Regions from separate parts of the Homo sapiens genome. Here region 1 is linked to region 2. A link means that fine-mapping ties the variant in region 2 to the expression of a gene that starts in the linked region. Tissue or cell type: testis. Region 2 holds a variant in brackets; the other region holds the start of a gene. All regions are shown on one strand. Distances are from middle to middle.

What was found. PIP is the estimated chance that this variant, and not a neighbour inherited with it, causes the effect.
Region 1: it holds the start of LRRC4B, and the variant in region 2 is fine-mapped to the expression of LRRC4B in testis (GTEx, PIP above 0.99).

Annotation. Positions count from the first base shown.
Region 1 is chr19:50,565,480-50,571,281 of GRCh38, reverse strand. LRRC4B (leucine rich repeat containing 4B) reads left to right here and starts at 2,847. Exons shown (of 3, transcript NM_001080457.2): 1 at 2,847-3,338.
Region 2 is chr19:50,520,774-50,525,773 of GRCh38, reverse strand. All of the region lies in intron 2 of LRRC4B (leucine rich repeat containing 4B), which reads left to right. The region is part of intron 1 of LOC124904747 (a long non-coding RNA gene); the gene reads right to left. Among named protein-coding and RNA genes, the nearest start is that of ASPDH, 9.4 kb to the right of the region's middle. The variant T/C (reference allele first, on the strand shown) is at 2,557.

The sequences.
Region 1 (5,802 bases), 45 kb before region 2:
CTGGGGGCCTCTGCCCCAGGTGCTTGCCCCTGTGCACGCAATGAGCTATCTCCTTATTTTGGCCTCGCCACAAAAGACACCTCCTCCAGGAGGCCTCCCCTGATCACCTCAAGTCTGTCCTCCTGACCGCCCACCAACTTCTCTCCTCCCTAATTGTCCTCTTATTTTCTTCATTGCTCACACTGCTCTTGGAAATAGGACCTTGAGGGGTCAGTTCCACGGGGACAGGGGCTGTCTCCTTACTGTTCTCCGGCCGGGCTCTCAAAGCCCTGAACAGTGCCCGGTGCTGAAGACCCTTGATGAGCTCTGGAGGTTGACGGCAAATCATTTCTCCTTCAGTAAAACAGGGGCAGTCATACCCTCCAGGCAGGGCTGAGACTTAGGCTGCATGGACCAAGAGGGTTCGCTGGTTGTTCAAATATTGGAATACTTCCCTGCTTCTCTAACGGCCCCACCTGACACGGCTTGGCCTCTCACCTGAGACCCTCTTGGTTTGTTTTTTGAGACTGAGTTTCGCTCTGTCACCCAGGCTGGAGTGCAATAACGTGATCTCGGCTCACTGCAACCTCTGGAGGCCTCCCGAGTTCAAGTGATTCTCGTGCCTCAGCCTCCCGAGTAGCTGGGATTACAGGCGCGCACCACCATGCCTGGCTAATTTTTGTATTTTTAGTAGAGATGGGGTTTCACCATGTTGGCCAGGCTGGTCTCGAACTCCCGACCTCAAGTGATCCTCCCGCCTCGGCCTCACAAAGTGCTGGGATTACAGGTGCGAGCCACCATGCCCGGCCGAGACCCTCTTGTAATGAAAGGGTTAACTCAGGGCTCATCAGGGGCCTGCTCTCACCTGTGCCCACCAGGTACCACCATCCCTAGGAGTTGGTACCGCATGGTTGCAGGATTGATGCCACGCTTGTGAGGTGCTGGGCACAGCATCTGGCCTGTGGGAGACCAGGAGGAACCGCGGGCTGCCACCATGTGATTCTGTTTTGCTGGTATCACCATCGGTCCTGGCCTACTCTGTGCTGGACCCTGGTGCACACACACATTCACTGGTCCAGTCTCACGAACTAGACTTGAGCGGCGCCAGGGGCGGGTGAAACCCGAAGCACCACAGCCACCTGCCACTCCCTGGCCCTCGCCCAGCCCCTTCTCAGTTTCCCCTCTCGGCAGCTCTCAGGGCTCAGCACCCACCAGCGCCCACCCAAAACCGCCTCTTCCGAACCCATCTGTGACCTGGCTTCTCTCGGGAACCCTGGCTCATTATAGATGTGTCTGGCCCACTTTCCTTCCAGCTTCCAACCCTGACTCTCCCCAGGCTCTGCCTGCAGGGGTACAGCCACACTTTCCCTCCCTGGGGCTCTCCGAGGAGAAGGGGAAGAGGGAGAGTCTGTCCCGGGTCCCCTGGCACTGAAAGAAGGAACCTTCATCTTTCTTCTCTCTCTCCTGAGTCCTCAGTTATTAGTCAGCGTTTTGGGGGATAACAAGGCAGGGGTGAAACTTCTGTGCTAATTTTAACATCTGGAAGGATCTTCAGTGTCCTGGACAGGGGCCACCCCTCCTTCTGGGTTTCTCCGCCCCTGATTCCCGATGTCCCCCTTCCTTGGGGCCCAAGCTTTTGGGGTAGTGGACCGGGGAGGTAGAGGGGAGGGTCACGGTGACCTCCCAGAGGCCTCTGCATCTGCCCTCCCCCTCCCTGCACCCAAGATGCAGCTCAGCTTCACAGCTCTAAATGCGTCCCCAGCACCCGCTGCCAACACCTGGGGGAGGTGAGAGGAGAGTGAGTAGGGAGGCTGCAGGCTGTGCCCTCTGCCCCTCCCAGGTGCCTCCACCTGCCAAGTCTGGACCAGGGACGAAAGCTAGGAACTGACCCATTCTCCATCTCCCTCAGGGTACCCCCAGCCCAAGACTGCATTCAAACCCCATCCTGGCTCCTCCAAGAGCTCAGTGGTCTCTTCTGGAAAATGGGTTTGAAGGTTCTTCTCTTCATGAGGTGGAGGGGCGGACGAAGCGGGCATACAGCGGAGTTCAAGAAAGGCCCTCTGTCCCCTCCCCCACTCTGTCTACTCCCCGGGCTCTTGCCACCCAGTCTTGGGCCCTCAAAGCTCCAGCTCCCCAGCTTCTCTCCTCTCCCCCGAGATCTTTCTCCTCCCCCCTCCCCCCGACGGGTCCTTCCCTCCCTCTTCCATCCTCTCATCTCTGTCCCACTTAGATCCTCCTGCCTCTTCCGGGTCCTGCCAGCTTCCCCTGCTCTTCCTGACAACGCACACCGCACCCCCCATTCTTCTCCCCACAGCCCCCGCCGCCCTCCAGGCCCCTCTGTCCCCTGCAGCCCTCAAAGTTAGGCCTTCCCTACCTCCTCTTTCCCCTCACTTCCCTGCCCCTGGGCCTCTCCTGCCCATCTCTCTACCCATCTCCCCCTCCACTCCTCCTCTCCCTCCTTTCCTCTTCCTCTACCCACTCCCCCTGCCCCCCGCCCTCCCCTCCCCTTCATCCAGGACCTTATTGCAGGAGTTACCCCCTCCTCTCCCCTCCCCTCCCACACCCTCTCCCCTTTCCCTCCTCTCTCCCCTGCTCCTCCCCTTTTTCTCCCCCTCTTCTTTCTTCCACCCCCTTCCCACTTCCTTCCTTCTTTCCTCCCCTTCCCTCTTCTTTCCTCCCCCCCTTCCCCTTCCCTCCCGTCTCCCTCTCCTTTCTTCCCTCCCTCTCCCATCCTCTCCGGTTCTTCCCCCCTCTTTCCTTCCTCCCTCTCCACGCTGCCCTCCCTCCCCTCCCTCTCTCCCCCCTTCCTCTCCTCCCGGGCCTCCCTCCCTGCTCCCTCCCTCCGCCCGCCCGCTCCCACCATCATCAGTATTCCGCTCCCGTCTCCGCCGCTCTCGGCTGCTCTCGGTCGCTGCCGCACCGTCCGAGGCGGGGGCCGGGGCCGGGGCCGGGGCCTGGGGGGGGGTGGGGTGGGGGGAGAGCGGCGCCGGCGGGCCCGAGGAGGGAGGAAGGAAGGAAGGAAGGCTGGAAGGAAGGAAGCCAGGAAAGAAAGAAGGAAAGAAAGGAAGGCAAGAAGGAAGGCGGGCGGCGGGCGAGGGCGCGGGGCCGGACGGCAGGCGGGCGCGAGGCGAGGAGGCAGAGCGGCCCCCCCAGCCCCACCGCCGCCGCTGCGGAAGCCCCCTCCCCACCCAGGAGCCGGGGAGGGGGGAGAGCGCGAGAGGCTCCAGGCCCGGCCGCAGCCCCGCCCCCCGCGCCTCCCCGCAGCGGGCCTTGCACCCCAAATTCCTGAGCCTCATTGGGGGGGTCCTCCCCCCACGGGCCGGGCATGCTGCCCCCCGGAAGGAACCCCTCTCCTCGCTGTGAGTAGCCGCCAAGGGGCACGGGTCGGGGGCGGGGGCCGGAGGCGGAACCGCGGGGGGTGGGTGGGGGGCATTCGCTAATTGGGGGACAGTGGTCTTAGGCCTCCTCCGGGATGGGGGGGGATGGCAGAGGACAGGGGGCGGGGCCTAATGGGAGGCAGAAGCCGGTGGGGGAGGCGACTGGGTGGGGGTTCTCCGGGCAGGGCGAGTTCTGTGCTGTGGGGGGGGTGGTTGTCGCCGCTGCCTGGGGACAGGTTGTGGGGGGTGCGTCCGGCGGTCGCTGCGTATCCAGCTGTGGGGCTGAGGAAGTAGGCTTAGGGTGGGGGGCTCTCCGGGCGTAGGTCCGGGCCCCCCTTTCTGGGGCGGGAGTCCAGGTTCTTCCTCTCCCCATGGCCCCTCCCACCCTCCACACCGCTGCTGCTTGGGGTGGGGGGGGCACGCCAGTGATGGGGAGGGGGGAGAGGCGGGCACGGGGTTTCCTTGGTGACCGCGCCTGGCAAGAGCGGTTGCCGTGGCAACCGGGGAGAACCGGGGAGTTTGGGAAGTGAAAATGGGAAAGACGGAGGGGGTGATTGGGGAGTGAGACAACCCCCTCCCCAGTCTTCAGCCCTTCTCCCTCTGGGGTCACCCCGCCTCTCCTGGTGGGCGGCTCGGACCCCTGCCCCTCCGTCTCTCCAAGACCCCCGTTCCCTGACCCCACTAGGCTTTGGGGCCTTCTATCCTTGGGCACGTGTCTCTCCAGGACCACTGCCTCTCCCACCTCCCTCCGCCCTCCCCTCCTGGAAACCTCTCCTCCTGGAGACCCCCGCCCCCCATTTGCTGCCTCCTCCCCAGGCTTCCGACCCTCACACCTGCTCTTCTAGGACCTTCTAAGACACGGCATCTGCTCCTCAGCCTTCTCTAACCCCCATCTCTGACAATCCCCCAGATATCCCTCTCCAGACCTTCTGTCCAGGAGACCCTCACTTCAGCCGCCCTCTCCTCTAGCTCCCTCCTCCCACTCCCTCCCCGCCCCTCTTTGGGCCTTGCACCCCAGCCTCTCCCCTTTCTCCCCAACACCCCCAGTCGCCTTCTCCTTAGCCCATCACTCTCTGAAACATCCTTCTATGACCTTTCATCACCCAGAGACCCCCTCCATCGTTGTCTCCTCACCCCATAGTACTCCCCAGTCTCAGACCCCCCCAATCCTAGCTCTCTCCTTTTGGGAGCCTCTCCTTCCAACTCACCATCAATCCCGGGCTCTCAGGGTTCCCCCCATCTCTATGCCCCTGCCTCCCTGGGGTCCTGTCCTGCCAGGGGCCCAGCCAGTCTCTCTCCAGGACTCGAGTCTCCAGAGCCCAGGATGGCCTCTTGCCCACCCCTCCACCCCTTCGCCTCCTCTCTGCACCCCCATCTCCTTCCCCAGACCTCCTCACCTCTGCTCTCCTCCTAGGCGCCCTCCCCTCCTCCCTGCCCCCTCCCCGCAGCCTCTGGTGACTTTCTGTCGGGGTGGGGAATTCCCCTGGGGAGAGCCCAGCTGGGAAGGGGGAGGGGGAAGGGAGCCTCGGGGCTGCCCCTCGGCCCCCTCCCCGCCCCCCTCTCCAGCTGGGAGCTGCAGTGGCGCCTCCGCAGCGCCCCATTGCTATGCGCCTCACATCCCAAGTCCCGGCCGCGCAGCCGCCAGACAGGAACTCGGGCTCCAGGCAGCTGGGAGTAGCCGGAGCCGGCTTCCCTCCTGGTCCAGGAGCCTGAAAACTCCCGCCCCCCACCCCCGGACCGCGGCCAGGACCGCACCTCCCTCTTCCTGTAGCATCTTCCGCAGCCTTCGCCTTCTAACCTGCCTTTCCGCAGCCTCCACTTCGCCTTCCCACCTTCCTCCTCCTCCTCCTCCCTGGGGCTCCTCTCCTCCTGGCCACCGGATTGTCCAAACGCACACAGAGAAATGAGGGACAGAGAGTGAAGCCGCCGAAAGGCGGGGAGAGAGACCCAAGGAAGGGAAGAGTGGGAGCCAGGGAGGGAGGCACAGAGGGAGAGAAGGGACCCAGCCTCCGAAACACACATACAGGCAATTAGGGCATCAGCACGGAGTCACGGAGTTACTCACTTAATTTCCGAAAGAAAGAGTCGGGGAGCCGGGGACACACGCCACTCCCACCCAGAGAGCAGACACGCGGGTGAGGCAGAGACGCAGGGAGCCACAGACTCAGGGAGGGTGGGACAGACCCGCGGGGTGCCTGCTGGGGCCAGCAGGGAGCCGGGGGACACTGGCCACCAGAGTTCTGGGGGATTAGAGGCCGCTTCTGACTTGTCAGAGGGACCCCAAGTCAGCAAGTCAGCGACAGAGAGTGGGAGCGTGCGAGGAAGACACGGGGCACGTGGAGGCAAAGATTCCCCTGGCAGGTACACACACACACACACACACACACACACACACACACGAGAGCACACAGTCATTCACTGGCAGCCAGAGACCCCGATATGGAAC
Region 2 (5,000 bases):
CAGGATGGGGGCGGCCCTGATTTTCTGCGGGAAAGGATGCAGTCAGACAGTTCTTGCCGGGGAGGGTGGCTCACGTGTGTAATCCCGGCACTTTGGGAGGCCGAGTTGGGCAGATCACCTGAGGTCAGGAGTTCAAGACCAGCCTGGCCAACATGATAAAACCCTCGTCTCTACTAAAAAAAAAAAAAAAAAATACAAAAATTAGCCGGGTGTGGTGGAGGACGCCTGTAATCCTAGCTACTTGGGAGGCTGAGGCAGGAGAATCACTTGAACCCGGGAGGTGGAGGTTGCAGTGAGCCAAGATTACGCCATTGCACTCCAGCCTAGGCAACAAGAGCAAAACTCCCTCTCAAAAAAAAAAAAAAAAGTACGGTTCTTGGCCCTAAGAGCCGCCTTTCAGTGGACGGCTCAGGGCTGTAATCCCAAGGGCATGGTACAAGTTTCTCAACGCCAACGATAACGATAACAATGAGAATGACGACGTGCTGAGCACCCCTGAACACTGGGACCTCATCTCCTCTCCCTCACCCTCTGAAGTGCTTTTCATCATCCTCCTCGTGGTAAGAGTGAGCCCAGAGGTACAGAGAGCTCAAGTGACAGGCCCTACAACCAGGACGGGGGAGGCGGGATTTGAACAGGGCTCTGCTCTTCACACTACACCCGTGACCTCTGTTTCCGTGTCTGTCCACGGGGAACGGCGATGGGTGGGTGTGAGGTGGCCGAGCGAGACGGGGAGGGGCGCAGGCTCCGGCCAGCCCTGCCCAGCTCTGCCATGGAGCAAGCCACTTCTTTAGGCTCCTGTTTCCTCCTTTCTAAAACGGGGCGATCACAGTCCTTGTTCTTAGGGCTGCTGGATGGACAAAAGGTGACTGTGTCCACAGAGCGTCCCTGGGCACCGAGTAAACCCGCAGCATCTCACAGGGCAGCCGCCAGCATCGGGGCTGCTGGCTGGGCTCGGGGACTGCATGCGTTGCTACTGAGAGGTGCCCTGGACGCCCTGGGTGTAAAACACATGTTGGGTTTCCTTGGATTTCGAAGCTCCACCATAAAGAGTGTAAAATGGCTCAATCGCAAGTTTGCATCTGATGACAGGTTCAAATGAGAGTATTTTGGACCTGTTGAGCTAAATAAATATATTAGTAAAGTTGATTTCACCTGTTTGGTTTTTTCTTTATTATTATTTCAATGTGGCTTCTAGGAAATTTAAAATTACACATGTGGGCTGGGTGTGGTGGCTCACACCTATAATCCCAGCACTTTGGGAGGCTGAGACGGGAGGATCGCTTGAGGCCAGGAGTTTGAGACCAGCCTGGGCAACATAGGGAGACCCCATCTCTACAAAAAATTAAAATAAAATAAAATTAGCCAGGTGTGCTGGCACGTGCCTGTAGTCCCAGCTACTCAGGAGGCTGAGGCGAGCAGATCACTTGAGCCCAGACGGTCAAGGCTGCAGTGAGCCGAGACTGCGCCACTGCACTCCAGCCTGGGTGACACAGCAAGACTCTGTCTTAAAACAAAACAACCAAACAAACATTACACACGTGTTCACATTCTATTTCTATTGGACAGCACCGACATACATTATTATTATTTTATGATTCTGCCTATGCCACAGATTCTACCATTTCTTACGCTGTTTGCCTCTCAGGTATATCTGGGTTTGGTTTTGTTTTTATTCCTGCTTACTGTAAAAGTAATTTTTCCTCATTGAGGAAAAAATATCACACAAGAATAAAAATTGTCCATAATTCCCAACAGATAAAGTTCACTACTAAGAAAAGCTTGGAGTATGTCCTTCCAGTTTTTTTTTTTTTTTAGACAGAGTCTCACTCTGTCACCCAGGCTGGAGTGCAACTGGGCGATCTTGGCTCACTGCAACCTCCGCCTCCCGGGTTCAAGAGATTCTCCTGCCTCAGCCTCCCAAGTAGCTGGGATTACAGGCACCTGCCACCATGCCTGACTAATTTTTTGTATTTTTAGTAGAGATGGGGTTTCGCCATGTTGGCCAAGCTGGTCTCGAAATCCTGACCCAGGTGATCCACCTGCCTTGGCCTCTCAGAGTGCTAGGATTACAGGCATGAGCCACCATGCCCGGCCTCTTTTTTGTTTTTAAGATGGAGTCTCACTGTGTTGCCCAGGCCAGAGTGCAGTGGCGCGATCTCGGCTCACTGCAACCTCCGCCTCCCTCTTGCCTCAGTCTCCCGAGTAACTGGGATTACAGGCACCCCCCACCACCCCCGGCTAATTTTTGTATTTTTAGCAGAGACGGAGTTTTATCATGTTGGCCAGGCTGGTCTCAAACTCCCAACCTCAACTGATCTGCCCGCCTCGGCCTACCTAAGTGCTGGGATTACAGGTGTGAGCCACCACGCCCGGCCTCTTTTTCTCTTTTTTCTTTTGGTGCATATACTCTGATACCTAATTCTTCAGCTTCTTTGTGATGACACAGGATGCATCTGAGGTTCTCAGTTTCCTCCGTTAATACTGTAACACCGCATTCCCCCAGTGTCCGTCCCCTTCTCCCTGGCACACACCACTATCTGGGCTTTGCAGATA[T/C]GATCCAATGGCTGTGTGGCCTTCTGGGCCTCAGTGCACCCGGCGTGGTCATCAGTAGTGAGGACCCTGTGAGCTCCTGCCTCCCGTGCTCTGACCCAGCACTGCCCCTCCCGTGGACCCCAGCTCCAGCCCTGAGAGGCGGCAGCCAGGGTCAGAGGTCAAGAGCCAGGACTCTGGAACCAGAGGGCCTGGATCCAGTCCCAACTCTGCTGTCCACTTCTGTGTGACCTTGGGCAAGTCACTGCACCTCCCTGGGCCTAATTCATCATCCTTCGTGTGAAACTCTTGAGGTCTGATGCGTTTTGACATTCCGATATTAGAAACATAGTAATAGATAGTATAGGTTTTATAATATCTTAGTGGTCTTGAAACATGGGAATTTCTAGAATGAAATGTTTGGATAGTCACGAGTGGGATCAATAAAAGCTTTACTTTCATGTGGCTGGGTGAGGTGGCTCACGCCGGTAATCCCAGCACTTTGGAAGGCCAAGGCGGGTGGATCACCTGAGGCCAGGAGTTCGAGACCAGCCTGGCCAACATGGCAAAACCCTGTCTCTACTAAAAATACAAAAAATTAGCCAAGCGTGTTGATGCGTGCCTGTAATCCCAGCTACTTGTGAGGCTGAGGCAGGAGAATCACTTGAACCCGGCAGGCAGAGGTTGCAGTGAGCCGAGATCACGCCTCTGCACTCCAGGCTGGGCGACAGAGCGAGACTCCATCTCAAAATAAATAAATAAATAAATAAATAAATAAATAATAAATAAAATAGCTTCACATGAGTTCTGATCGGGTTTTGCCACCAAGTGGGATTTGGTGTCAAAGTTTGGAAAAATCTGATTGTTAGGGCCTTAAGAATTTTGGAATTGCAGGTATCGAATAAGGACTGGTAATAGTGCCCATCTCACAGGGCAGTTTGGAGGATTAAAAGAGTTATTACCCACAAAATGTTTAGAACAGTGTCTGGCACCAAAGATGTGTTCAATGTGTCTTAGTTGCTGGTATTACTATTTTCATTTTGTATATTTATTTATTTATTTTGGGGACGGGATCTCCCTCTGTCACGCAGGCTGGAGCTCAGTGGCACGATCACAGTTCACTGCAGCCTTGGCCTCCTGGGCTCAGGCGATCCTCCCATCTTAGCCTTCTGAGTAGCTGGGACCACAGGTGCATGCCATCACACAGGGCTAATTTTCGTATTTGTCTGTAGAGACAGGGGTCTTGCTTTGTTGACCAGGATTGTCTTCAATTCCCGAGCTCAAGTGATCCTCCCACCTCGGCCTCCCAAAGTGCTGGGATTACTGCTGTGAGCCACCATGCCCAGCCTTATTTTTTTCATTTTTAAAACTATGTATAGTGGCCGGGCACGGTGGTTCACGCCTGTAATTTCCCAGCACTTTGGGAGGCCAAGGCAGGCAGATCACTTCAGATTGGGAGTTCAAGAACAGTCTGGCCAACATGGGGAAACCCCGTCTCTACTAAAAATACAAAATTGGCTGGGCACGGTGGCTCACGCCTGTAATCCCAGCACTTTGGGAGGCTGAGGCGGGTGGATCACGAGGTCAGGAGTTCAAGACCAGCCTGGCCAACATGGTGAAACCCCATCTCTACTAAAAATACAAAAATTAGCCAGGCGTGGTGGCACGACCCTGTAATCCCAGCTACTTGGGAGACTGAGGCAGGAGAATCGCTAGAACCTGGAAGGCGGAGGTTACAGTGAGCCGAGATTGTGCAACTGCACTCCAGCCTGGGTGACAGAGCAAGACTCTGTCTCAAAAATAAAATAAAATAAAATAATGTATCACTGGCATGGAATAAAATATCCTCATTTTAAGTGTAGTTTGGGGAGTCCTAACAGTCGCTTTCCGTCATGTAACCACCACGCCAATGTAGCACCTTTCAATCACCCCAGAAAGCTCTCTCATGCCCTTCCCTGTCTGCCCCAGATACCTCACCTGCCCACACACGCAGAGACGCACACTTAGAACACCCAGAGCATGGTGTGGACGGATCCACCGCACCGGCTCCTTTGTGTTCGGCGTCTTTTGCTCAGTGTAACCCCCTAGAGATTCATCCAGAGGGTCATCAGTAGCCAGGTCCCTTTCATGGCTGAGCTGAGAGATTCATCCAGGGGGTCACAGCAGCCAGGTCCCTTTCATGGCTGAGCCGCAGCATCCTTTACACGGCCACACCTCGCAGTGTTTGTCCATTCACCTGCTGAGGAACATTTGGGATGTCTCCAGCTTAGGCAGTCCTGAGAAAAAAATGCTGTGAACACCCACATAGAAGCCGTTGCGTGGACATCTGCCTTCATTTCTCTTGAGGAAATACCCAGGAATGGAACAGCCGGGTCGGATGGCCACTCCAGTTTTAACTTTTTTTTCAAAAGTTTTTTCCTCTTCAATCCCAAAATTCTTGGTTTTATATTTCTTTTTAAATTCTTTTT